2 separate regions of the Homo sapiens genome follow, and region 2 is linked to region 1. Evidence: fine-mapped expression QTL. Tissue or cell type: lung. Region 1 holds a variant in brackets; the other region holds the start of a gene. All regions are shown on one strand. Distances are between the middles of the regions. Region 1 has its middle 92 kb from the start of NMUR2. Region 2 holds the start of NMUR2 (neuromedin U receptor 2).

Evidence for each region. PIP is the estimated chance that this variant, and not a neighbour inherited with it, causes the effect.
Region 2: NMUR2 starts here. The variant in region 1 is the best candidate, but not a certain one, in a credible set for the expression of NMUR2 in lung (TOPMed, PIP 0.55).

Annotation. Positions count from the first base shown.
Region 1 is chr5:152,494,193-152,499,587 of GRCh38, reverse strand. It overlaps the pseudogene RPL36AP20. Among named protein-coding and RNA genes, the nearest start is that of NMUR2, 92 kb to the right of the region's middle. The variant C/T (reference allele first, on the strand shown) is at 2,687.
Region 2 is chr5:152,402,743-152,408,137 of GRCh38, reverse strand. It overlaps NMUR2 (neuromedin U receptor 2), which reads left to right and starts at 2,859. Exons shown (of 4, transcript NM_020167.5): 1 at 2,859-3,750. The coding sequence starts at 3,025.

The sequences.
Region 1 (5,395 bases):
GTCCCTGTTTTCTTTTATACCTTTTCATCCAATAAACGCTGCCCTTCTCACCCTTCCAAGTGTCTGCAAGCCTAATCTTTCATGGCTGTGTGACAAGAACCCAGCCTTTAGCTGAACTAAGGAGAAAGTCCTACAACAATATTTGGTCCAAACTTTGGAGTATGCAAGGGGTTCTGAAAGACAAAAGGTGTCTGATACAGAGGAAATACTAAGACCTGGGAGTTGAGAGGCAAGTTTGAGTCTAATGGCTGACACTGACTCCCGGATCTTGAACAAGTTTCTACCTCTTTAGAATTGTTATCCAAGCCTGAAATACAATAGGGTTGGGAAAGATCATGTAGGGACGCTTCCAGGTTCAGATCCTATTGTTTAAATTCAAAGGAGTAGGATAACCCACTCTTGAAAGCCTGGATCACACCTTCGAGTTCAAAAGCTACTGAAGCCCCAGGGTATAAGATCTAGGACAATATCCTTGTGAACCTAGAATGTACAACATTGCCATCTGACAGAAATAAGTTTTGTGAACAGATAGAAATAATCTCTCTTCTCATTAGAGCAACAGAGCCAAAAATACGGATATCCAGGCTTTTAAATTTCCTAAGAATTATATCCTGGTGTGTAGGCAGGGGTTGTTCATATAGAACCAAGAAATGCCAGTTCAGAGATGACCTCTCTTAGGTACTATGAATGATGGCTAAGACTATGGTGTGGCATCTGGAGTGAGTCAAACCTGTGTTTAAATCCAAGTCCTGCTACACGCATTTTAGGTAACCCTAAAGAAGTAATATTTCAGGCCTCAACTTTCTTCCCTGAAGAATGGCCATCTTATTTTTGTTTGTCTTTAAGTGAATTAAATAAGGTCATGAATGTAAAACTCTTAGTACTTTGCCTGGCAATTTGCCCACTGGATTCTTATCTATTTGAGGGTAGGAACTACGATAGTATTCCAAGAATGTCGCCCTTACATGATACATAGTAAGTGCTCAAGAAACTTTGAAATATCTGACACCACATGCCCCAAAGGTCTACTGAGTTGCCCTGAACAATGAAAATTTCTCTCTTCTTTAATTACCTGATACCTGTTTGGTCCAGTAGATCAAGAAGAGAGACAGTATTACTGTTCTTAGATCCATTTTTCCTCTACATCTGCCTTTATGTCATTTACCATATGTACTATATATGCATGGCACTTGGGCCCCACTATATGGTGCAAATTGATATCACTATGCTTTGTCATATTCAAAGCTTCCTGCCTTATGATCCTGTAATTTTTAGATTTTGATTTTTGAGTGTTATGTATATTCTTCATTTGTTTAGACACTGATGGAATTTAGCACAAGTAGTGTCAATCAGATACGGTAGTAAAACTTATAAGTAACTTGAAGTCTCATTAGAATTATAACATAGGCTCTCACTGCACTACCATCCCAAATTGAGTGCTAAGGAAGCTCTAAGTTTATAGATACATTTTCTACCCAGTCAATCATCATTTATGAGAATTGTGCTATTTCACAGAGCTGGAATTTTACATAAGCCAATTGAGACACACTTCTATCAAGACAATTATGACTATAATACCAAAAGACCACTTTTTCAATAATCAACATCATCATTATAATTAGTCAACAAAAAGGGACACTTGCAAACTAGTGAGCTTTTATAGCCAGGATGTTATTAAATATGAATCCCAAAAGGACAAGTGCATAGAAGAATGAACAATGTGTTCCATTAAAAACAGTAATTTGTTGACAAATTCTGCACATAATGATGTATAATTATGAAAACCAATTTGGCTTTGCTATTAGAAAAATCTTTTTTGCAAGTTTAGGATTCTTTTTCACATCTTTGCAAATATTGAAAAACAGTTTTCTTTTTCCAAATGGAAGTGTTTATATATAAATTACTTTTAATTTGTATAAAATTATACTTGCACTTTATATTAAGATCATGTCACTGGGTGAAAATATAGAAATCCTTTCTTATTATCTAGACCTGTCCTGCTCAGTATGGTAGCCATTAGTCACATATGGCTACTGGTTACTTCACAAGTGGCTACCAAAACTGAGGAATTAAGTTTTTATATTTTAACTGAGTCAATTTTAAGTTTTAAAACTGAAGCAATATAAAATATTTTTCAATTAAACATAACTACATTATTGTACATTTCTCTTTAACTATTAAAAATTTAGTGTCTGAATTGAGCTTTGCCAAAAGTGAAATGTATACACAAAATTTCAAAGATTAAATATTAAGAACAATGGAAAATATCTTCATGTTACGATGATTACTTGTTGAAACAGTAACATTTGGGTATGTTCAATTAAATAGAACGTATTTTTTTCTATGTATTTTCACTGTTTTTTAATGTGGCTACTAGTAAATTTCAAGTTACGTATGTGGTTCATATTGTATCTGGACTTAACAGCATTGATCTTTCCACTTAGAAAAATCTACTTTTCCATGATCTACTTCCTGTAATGGCAGTGAAGCTTTTATCAAATTTATTCATTCACAGACAAGATTTATAAACACTAGACAAAACAGAAAATACAACAAAAACAACTGTTTTTTTGAAGGCCTGAAGAAACATTGAAAGCAAGATGAAATTGAAAGTTGGCCTTTGAAGGAAGGGCACTGCCCTGGATAAGATTCAGGTGTAGTAAGCTTTGCACCTGTGGACATTACC[C/T]AATCTGCAGGAAAATGAATGGAAAGAATTCAGGAAGAAAGTCAAAGGCATAGGAATGGAAGTAAGGCCATAGAGTTTAGAGCTGCCAAAATAGCTAGAAAGTGAAGGGGAAAATTTAGAAAAGGAGGAAGCCCCTAAATCTACATCTGAATACCTGTCAAATCCTTGGCTAAACTGTAAATACAAATTCAGGGGACTCCAAGTTTCAGACTGTAAAACATTATCTGTGAGGCTGGAGGAACTGAGCAGAGATCTCAGATTTCATCCACTTCAAGAGAGACAATTGGTGTTTAGGTGGACTGCCTATCAGAAAAAAAACAAACATCCTTTAGAAGAAAACTGAATCACAGTCTCTACCATGTTTCCTTTAGAACATGTAGTATAGAATAAACTAGTAAACTCACAAAAGAACATGTAATCCACAGTCAAGAGAAAAAGCAGTCAATAGGTACTGAACTTGAAATGTTCAAGATGTTGGAATTTGCAAACAAGGACTCAAAAGGTATATTAAATCGATGTTTCAAAAAGTAAAGACAAATATGTCATAATGAATAAAGAAGGCAGGGAAACTAGGCAGAAAAATGAAAGCTAAACAAAAGAAAAAAATGAAAATTCCACAGCCAAAGAGTAAAATATCATGAAAATTTATTTGAAAAGGCGTTACAAGAGTACTGGAGACAAGGGGAAAAAAAGATCAGTGAATGTAGAGAGAGATTATCTTCTGTAGATTAGTATCTGAAGGTAGATTGGATCTTAGTAGAAATTATCCAATCTGGAGAACAGAGAGAATAAAGACTGAAAATAAATCAGAAGCTCAGAGGCTTATGGGATAATAATAAGTGTTCTAAAATGTATGCAACAGCTCCCAGGCTGTAGTACTTGAGAAAACATGAGAACATTCCTAAAAGAAATGTGACAAGCATCAACACCGTGAAGACACACAATACAAGGAGATCAAGGAATTTGGTATGCCTAGCTTCATTCTGACAGGAAGCAGAGCAGGCTATGGTGGGCAGACCAAGCAGATTTTCTGGAAAAGTCTCTGTAAAACTACAAAGAAGATTGTGATGAGGCTTAAATGTGTTGAGCCCAAATGCAGATCTAAGAGAATGCTGACTATTAAGAAATGCAAGAATTTTAAATTAGGGAGAGATGAGAGAAAAAGCCAAATGATCCAGTTCTAAACTTCATCTTTTGTTTTATTATGAAGACAATACAATATTGAGTTCACTTCAGAGAGTGTATGTGCATGTGTGTGGAATGGAAGTCTCAGAGTAAGGAAGAGATAAAAAAAGGTGGGAAAAAATTGAAAAAGAAAAAAAGCAGCCAAATAGTCCCCAAACTTGGGGGAAGAAAAACAAACAAGCAGACCCAATGAGCTGAGAAAATCCCAGTCAGAATAATCACAAAGAAAATCATACCTAGGGATATCATAGTCTAACTTCTGAAAACCAAAGATAAACTGACTATTGTTAAAGCAGCCAGTGAAAAAAGATAAAGGACATACTACCAGCAATATGAATGATGGCTAATTTCTTATCAAAAACAAAGGAGGCTAGAAGACAAAAGAAACCTGTGTCCAATGAAAATAAGCTTCAAGATAAGGGTAAAATGAAGATATTTTCAGAGAAGTAGAAACTGCATGAATTTATTGCCAGCAGATTTCAAGAACTACTATAGAACATTATTCAAATTCAAGAACTACTATAGAACATTATTCAAATTAAGGAAAATGATAACAGATTGAAACTCAGGACTCCAGAAACTAGTATAGAATACCAAAAGTGATATGCATGGGTAAATAATAAGAGTCTCTGTTTTTCCTTATTTAAAAGACACAACTACTTTAAAAATTGTAATAGTTTAACACTATAAGTAGAGCTGTAAATAATAGGTATAATATAAATATCAATAGCTTCAAGGACGGATAGTTAAATGGAACTATGATGTTGCACATTTCTAGTATTTTACATTAATTGGTAAAGTACTAACCCTAAGTAGACCTAATAGGTTAAAATGCATATTATAATCTCTAGGGTAACCACCAAAAATATAAAGATGTATAGTTAAAAAGCCAATAAAATTGTCCACTAAAAAATATTTGATCAACTTAAAGAAAGAAAGAAAAAAGACACAGGGAGACCTTAAACAAATTCATGAATGCTCAAGTATCTCATAAAATGGTATAGTATTTGCATATAATCTACAGACATCCTCCCGTACATAATCACACATGGCTTAACAACAGGGATATGTTCTGAGAAATGCATACTTAGGTGATTTCATCATTGTGTGAACATCATAGTGTGTACTTACACAAACCTAGATAGTTTCACCTCCTGCACACTTAGTCTACATGGTATAGCCTATTTCTCCTAGGCTATAAACTGTACAGCATGTTACTGTATGAAATACTGTGGGCAAATGTACCACAATAAGTATTTGTGTATCTTAACATATCTAAACAAAGATATAGTACAAATATGGTATTATAATCTTAAGAGAACACCATTGTATATATATGGTCAGCTGTTGACTGAAATGTCATTTTGCAGTAAATGGCTATACTTTAAATTACCTCTAGATTACTAATAAGTCTGTAGCAAATACAATGTAAATGCTAGGTAAATAGTTTATTTGCATTTTTATTTGTATTTTGTTGTATTGTTATTTTTTGTGTTTTTCCTTAATCTTTTTAATCTTGAGTGG
Region 2 (5,395 bases), 91 kb after region 1:
TCCCACTACTGGGTGTCTGAGGAAAAGAAGTCATTATTCGAAAAAAATACTTGCACATGCCTGTTTATAGCAGCACAATTCGCAACAGTAAAATTGTGGAACCAACCTAAATGCCCATCAATCAGTGAGTGGATAAAGAAACTCTGATATATATTGATATATATGGATATATCATATATGGATATCCTATATATCCATATATATGGATATATCATATATAAATACTATATAATATATATTATATATAATATTATATATAATATATCTTATATATATTATATATAATATATATAATATACAATATAATATAATATATAATATAATATAATATAAATATAATATATAAATATATATCCATATATGGATATATAATATATAAATATATTTCCATACATATATATGAATACTACACAGCCATAAAAAGGAATGAATTAACAGCATTTGCAATGACCTGGGTGAGATTAAAGACTATTATTCTAAGTGGAGTAACTCAGGAATGGACAACCAAACATCATATGTTCTCACTGATATGTGGGAGCTAAGGTGTGAAGATGCAAACGCATAAGAATGATACAATGGACTTTGGGGACTTTAGGGGAAGAGAGGGAGGCAGGTGAGGGATAAAAGACAACAAATATGGTGCAGTGTATACTGCTTGGGTGATGGGTGCACCAGGTTCTCACAAATCTCTACTAAAGAACTTACTTGTGTAACCAAATACCACCTGTACCCCAGTAACTTATGGAAAAATATTTTTGTTAAAGAAAGAAATATTTTCCATCTTCCTCAGCGCTAAGTTTATAGTCTGCCACTGTGCACCCTTATAACGATCCTTACATCTAAATGAGATATTCTCATTAAACTTTTCCTATTTCATTAGAAAAATACGTTAAAGTTTGTAAATAGTGATTTTAACATCAAAACTTGCCTTTAACTAGAGGGCCCTAATTCTGGCTCTGCAATACCTATTACATGTCTGTAATTATTATTAATGTTATTGATCAATTTTTCCTACTTTTCCATCTTCTGTGCACATGCTAAGACAGCACTTCCTGACCCTGCTGTAGTCGAATGGGTACATATGATTAACCTTGGTCAATGAGCTGTGAGAAAAACTGGCAATGAGTTACTTACTTTTGGGCTAGAGCCTATAATTACCTACTTAAGACCATCCAGAGCTCTCTTTTCCTCTATCACAATGATAATCAAAATTCCAGAGAGTGACCACTGCATCAGCCTAGGTTTATGAGTGAGCATAGCATGAGACAGACCCTCAATACATTTGAAGTACAAGAGAAATAAATCTGTATTGTTTAAAACCACCAAGATATGTCAATCATTTGTTACAGCAGCGTAAACTATCTTAACTTGAGAGATGACTTATTCTTGGACAAGTCACTTTCCCTCTCTAATTTTTAACGTCATAATCTGATTTAACAAATAAAGGGAAAAAATTAACATTTAGTGAGCATCTCTTAAGTATAAGTTGCTTCGTTATATATAATTTAATTTAGTCTTCTCAATGACCATAAAAGGTATTATCTCCTGCAAAAATATTCCTAAATCCAAAGAAATCTCTCAACTCCACTGCTCATAGAATCCAAGCCACTACTATGTCTTACTAGCCTCTTACCTACCTTCTGTTAAAATTTCTCCCTCGTTAATTCTCCAGTGCAAAATCTTTTAAAGACTTCTCCCTGCCATTTGAATCAGAGCTAAACTCTCTTCCATGGCCTATAAGAGTTTACATGAACCTGTACCTGCCAGCCACTTCAATCTAAGCATTCATACTTTGCTGACCACTTATTAAATTCCAGTTATTCTGGTCTTCCTGATATTTTTAAAACCTATCCAGCTTGTTTCTGCCTCAGGACCTTTGCACTTGCTATTACTTTTGCTGAGTAATACACTTCCCTTAGCTCTTTCATGACTGACTTCATCATTCAGACCTCAGCTAAAGTGACATCTCCTGAGATAAGTTTTCTTTCACCATCCTTGATAAATAATTATTTATCAATTACTATCTGAAATTATATTATTAATTTATTCATTTGCTTGTGTGTTTTCAGAATTCCCTACTGCAAGAAAAGCTCCACTAGGGCAGAGACCTTGTCTTGCTTGTACACTAGTGTTTCTACAAAGCTTAGAACATTCCCTGGCAAATAGTGAATCCTCAAGAAGTTATTGTGGAACGCAATCGAATTAATGATGCAGATAAGGAAATAAGCCTCTAAGAGTTTGGGTAACTGTGCCAACTTTCCTAAATTTCTATGAGTGTTCCTAATTCTGAAGTCCATTTGCCTTTTGCTTACAGCAAAGCTCTGCTGAGACTGAAGAGTCAGTTAGCAGTCAGGGCTAGGCACTGTGCATGCGCCCTTTCAGGCTTCGGATTCTATCGTTGATGCAGTTAAAACCAAAAAGTCACATTAATCATGTTATCACATTAATCCCCAGAGAACCCTGAATTTCCAGTGGAACAAGATAACTTGAGAAATCTATTGATCTCCTATTTTCATCATGCTGTACGGCTGACAAGGGTTAGTGGAGATTGGTATTCTTTTGCCCATGGCCCTGCAACTTTAATTTCTATGTCTACCCAGATTCCCACAACTTTGCAACCTGCATTGCTCAAAGTGCCCATCCATGAAGTTCGAGTGGCTTCTTTTGTGTCAGCTCTGCCTTCCCAGCTCCTTCCCATTCAGGGAGAGGTCTCTGCCTCCTCCCCTGCTTCCTGACTCGAAGCCAGCACCCCTCTCCTCCAGTGCAGCCTAACACACTCTCATTGGCCCTCAGCCTGTCAAGGGGAGGGGCTTGTGTCTCCGGGGCTCTTCAAAAGGGATCGGCGGTCCAGGCAGCCTAACCTGGAGGGTGAAACACTCACTCTCTCCCAGCCTTCCTTACGAAGCCTGTGACTTTCGTGACTGCTTTCTCTTTTTTGTTTTCCTTTTTTCTTTTTTTTTTTTTTTTCCTGGCTCAGCTTGAAACAGAGCCTCGTACCAGGGGAGGCTCAGGCCTTGGATTTTAATGTCAGGGATGGAAAAACTTCAGAATGCTTCCTGGATCTACCAGCAGAAACTAGAAGATCCATTCCAGAAACACCTGAACAGCACCGAGGAGTATCTGGCCTTCCTCTGCGGACCTCGGCGCAGCCACTTCTTCCTCCCCGTGTCTGTGGTGTATGTGCCAATTTTTGTGGTGGGGGTCATTGGCAATGTCCTGGTGTGCCTGGTGATTCTGCAGCACCAGGCTATGAAGACGCCCACCAACTACTACCTCTTCAGCCTGGCGGTCTCTGACCTCCTGGTCCTGCTCCTTGGAATGCCCCTGGAGGTCTATGAGATGTGGCGCAACTACCCTTTCTTGTTCGGGCCCGTGGGCTGCTACTTCAAGACGGCCCTCTTTGAGACCGTGTGCTTCGCCTCCATCCTCAGCATCACCACCGTCAGCGTGGAGCGCTACGTGGCCATCCTACACCCGTTCCGCGCCAAACTGCAGAGCACCCGGCGCCGGGCCCTCAGGATCCTCGGCATCGTCTGGGGCTTCTCCGTGCTCTTCTCCCTGCCCAACACCAGCATCCATGGCATCAAGTTCCACTACTTCCCCAATGGGTCCCTGGTCCCAGGTTCGGCCACCTGTACGGTCATCAAGCCCATGTGGATCTACAATTTCATCATCCAGGTCACCTCCTTCCTATTCTACCTCCTCCCCATGACTGTCATCAGTGTCCTCTACTACCTCATGGCACTCAGAGTGAGTATCTAGGCTGGGGTGGCCTGAGGCAGCATCCCTTCTTTTTTCACAGGCTCAAAGTTCAGAGAAAAACTTAGAATTGGGGAAATTCAGAAATGGAAGGGAACAGAGGGAAAATAGAATGAGCTCAGATGGGAAATTGAGACTTAAAAGGACTTGCCTCAAATGAGATGAATGGTAACCACAACTATTTATCATTTCCTTTAGCTCGTCTTCTATTTTTCTTCCCTCTATTCTTGGGGTTCTCGTATCTAAATGTTCCTAAGAATCATGCAGAAAACTTACTTTGGGAGCAATATGCATACCTCACCCCCAGGAAAATGGGATTCAGAAGGTCTGAGGTGGAGCCTCATTTTAAATAAGCACATCAGGTGATCTGGGGTGAGGTGGCCACACTTTGAGAGACTTCTCCACATCCTGTTGTCACTTTCCAGCCCCTGGCCACTGCCTGCATTGAGATTTTCCTGTACACCAACTTGGTCTGAGTATAACACAAACTATCCCTGCCTATTTTGTAGTCCAAGATAGGTATTCAGTTTTAAAATCAGACATTTACTGTGGTTGCTCCGACCCTTTCATTAAAATGAGGTTGAAACAAAACAAAATAAAACTATATATATTATATGTATAGTTACATATATAATATATAGTCATATATATAATATATAGTTATATATAATATATAATCATATATATTAATGACATGACTGAGATAACTTGAGCTTCTTTTGAGCAGGTGCAGATTGAGAGATAAGGAAGTAAACAGCACATGAGATAGAGTGAAAAAATGTGAATAAGAGCTTATCTGAAATTAAGAAAAAGATATCACTTATTTTGCAACATATATAATTAGAGGTTCTTTTCCTATGTTTATGGTGGTAAACTGATTTCTTTTTCAGAAGGGGGGTGTCTAAATTAGCTGAGAGAAACTATTTTTAATAAGGGTAGGAATTAGTCTATATAATTCCTCTCTGGTATATTCTGCACCCAAATTCATGAAGAGAAAAGTTCTTCACAATGACAATTTTACACCCACTTAAGGGAGGTATTATAGCTTGTGTAGTAAACAGTTACGAGACCATTTAGACTCCCAGATCTACAGCTGACATATAATATGCCTTTAGGCAAGCCACATCATTCTCCTGGAATTAGTTTTCCCGTGTATAAAATGAAAAGGTCACATCAGATCCTATCTATGTCCCCTGTAGCTCTAACAGTCTATTATTCCTTTAAAAAAAGAAAAAAAAACACCTGTGAGCTGAAGTAATGTGAGTTTTAAATGACAGGACAAACAGATATCACATTCACATCATTTGCTTTGAGATGGCTCTGACATCACACTTTATGTGACAACTAATATACTCCTATTTCAGTCCATCTCTGAGAAGCCGATTGTCAGAAGCGAGTGCCCAATGGTAGTCCTTTTGAATACCTATTGTCCCTAAGGTGAATAGCGAGGTCTAAGTAGGAAGAACAAATTCTAAGTGTCACGGACATCTGGGCACAAGAGTAAATCTAATTAGGCAGAGAGCTGTGCCAGTCCCCTCCTGGAGGGCTAGCACCTGTATTCCCAGAGACATGTCCCACCCCGCACTAGCTCACAGCCATGTCTTAAGAACGTCCTGCACATCTCACTGCGGGGAAA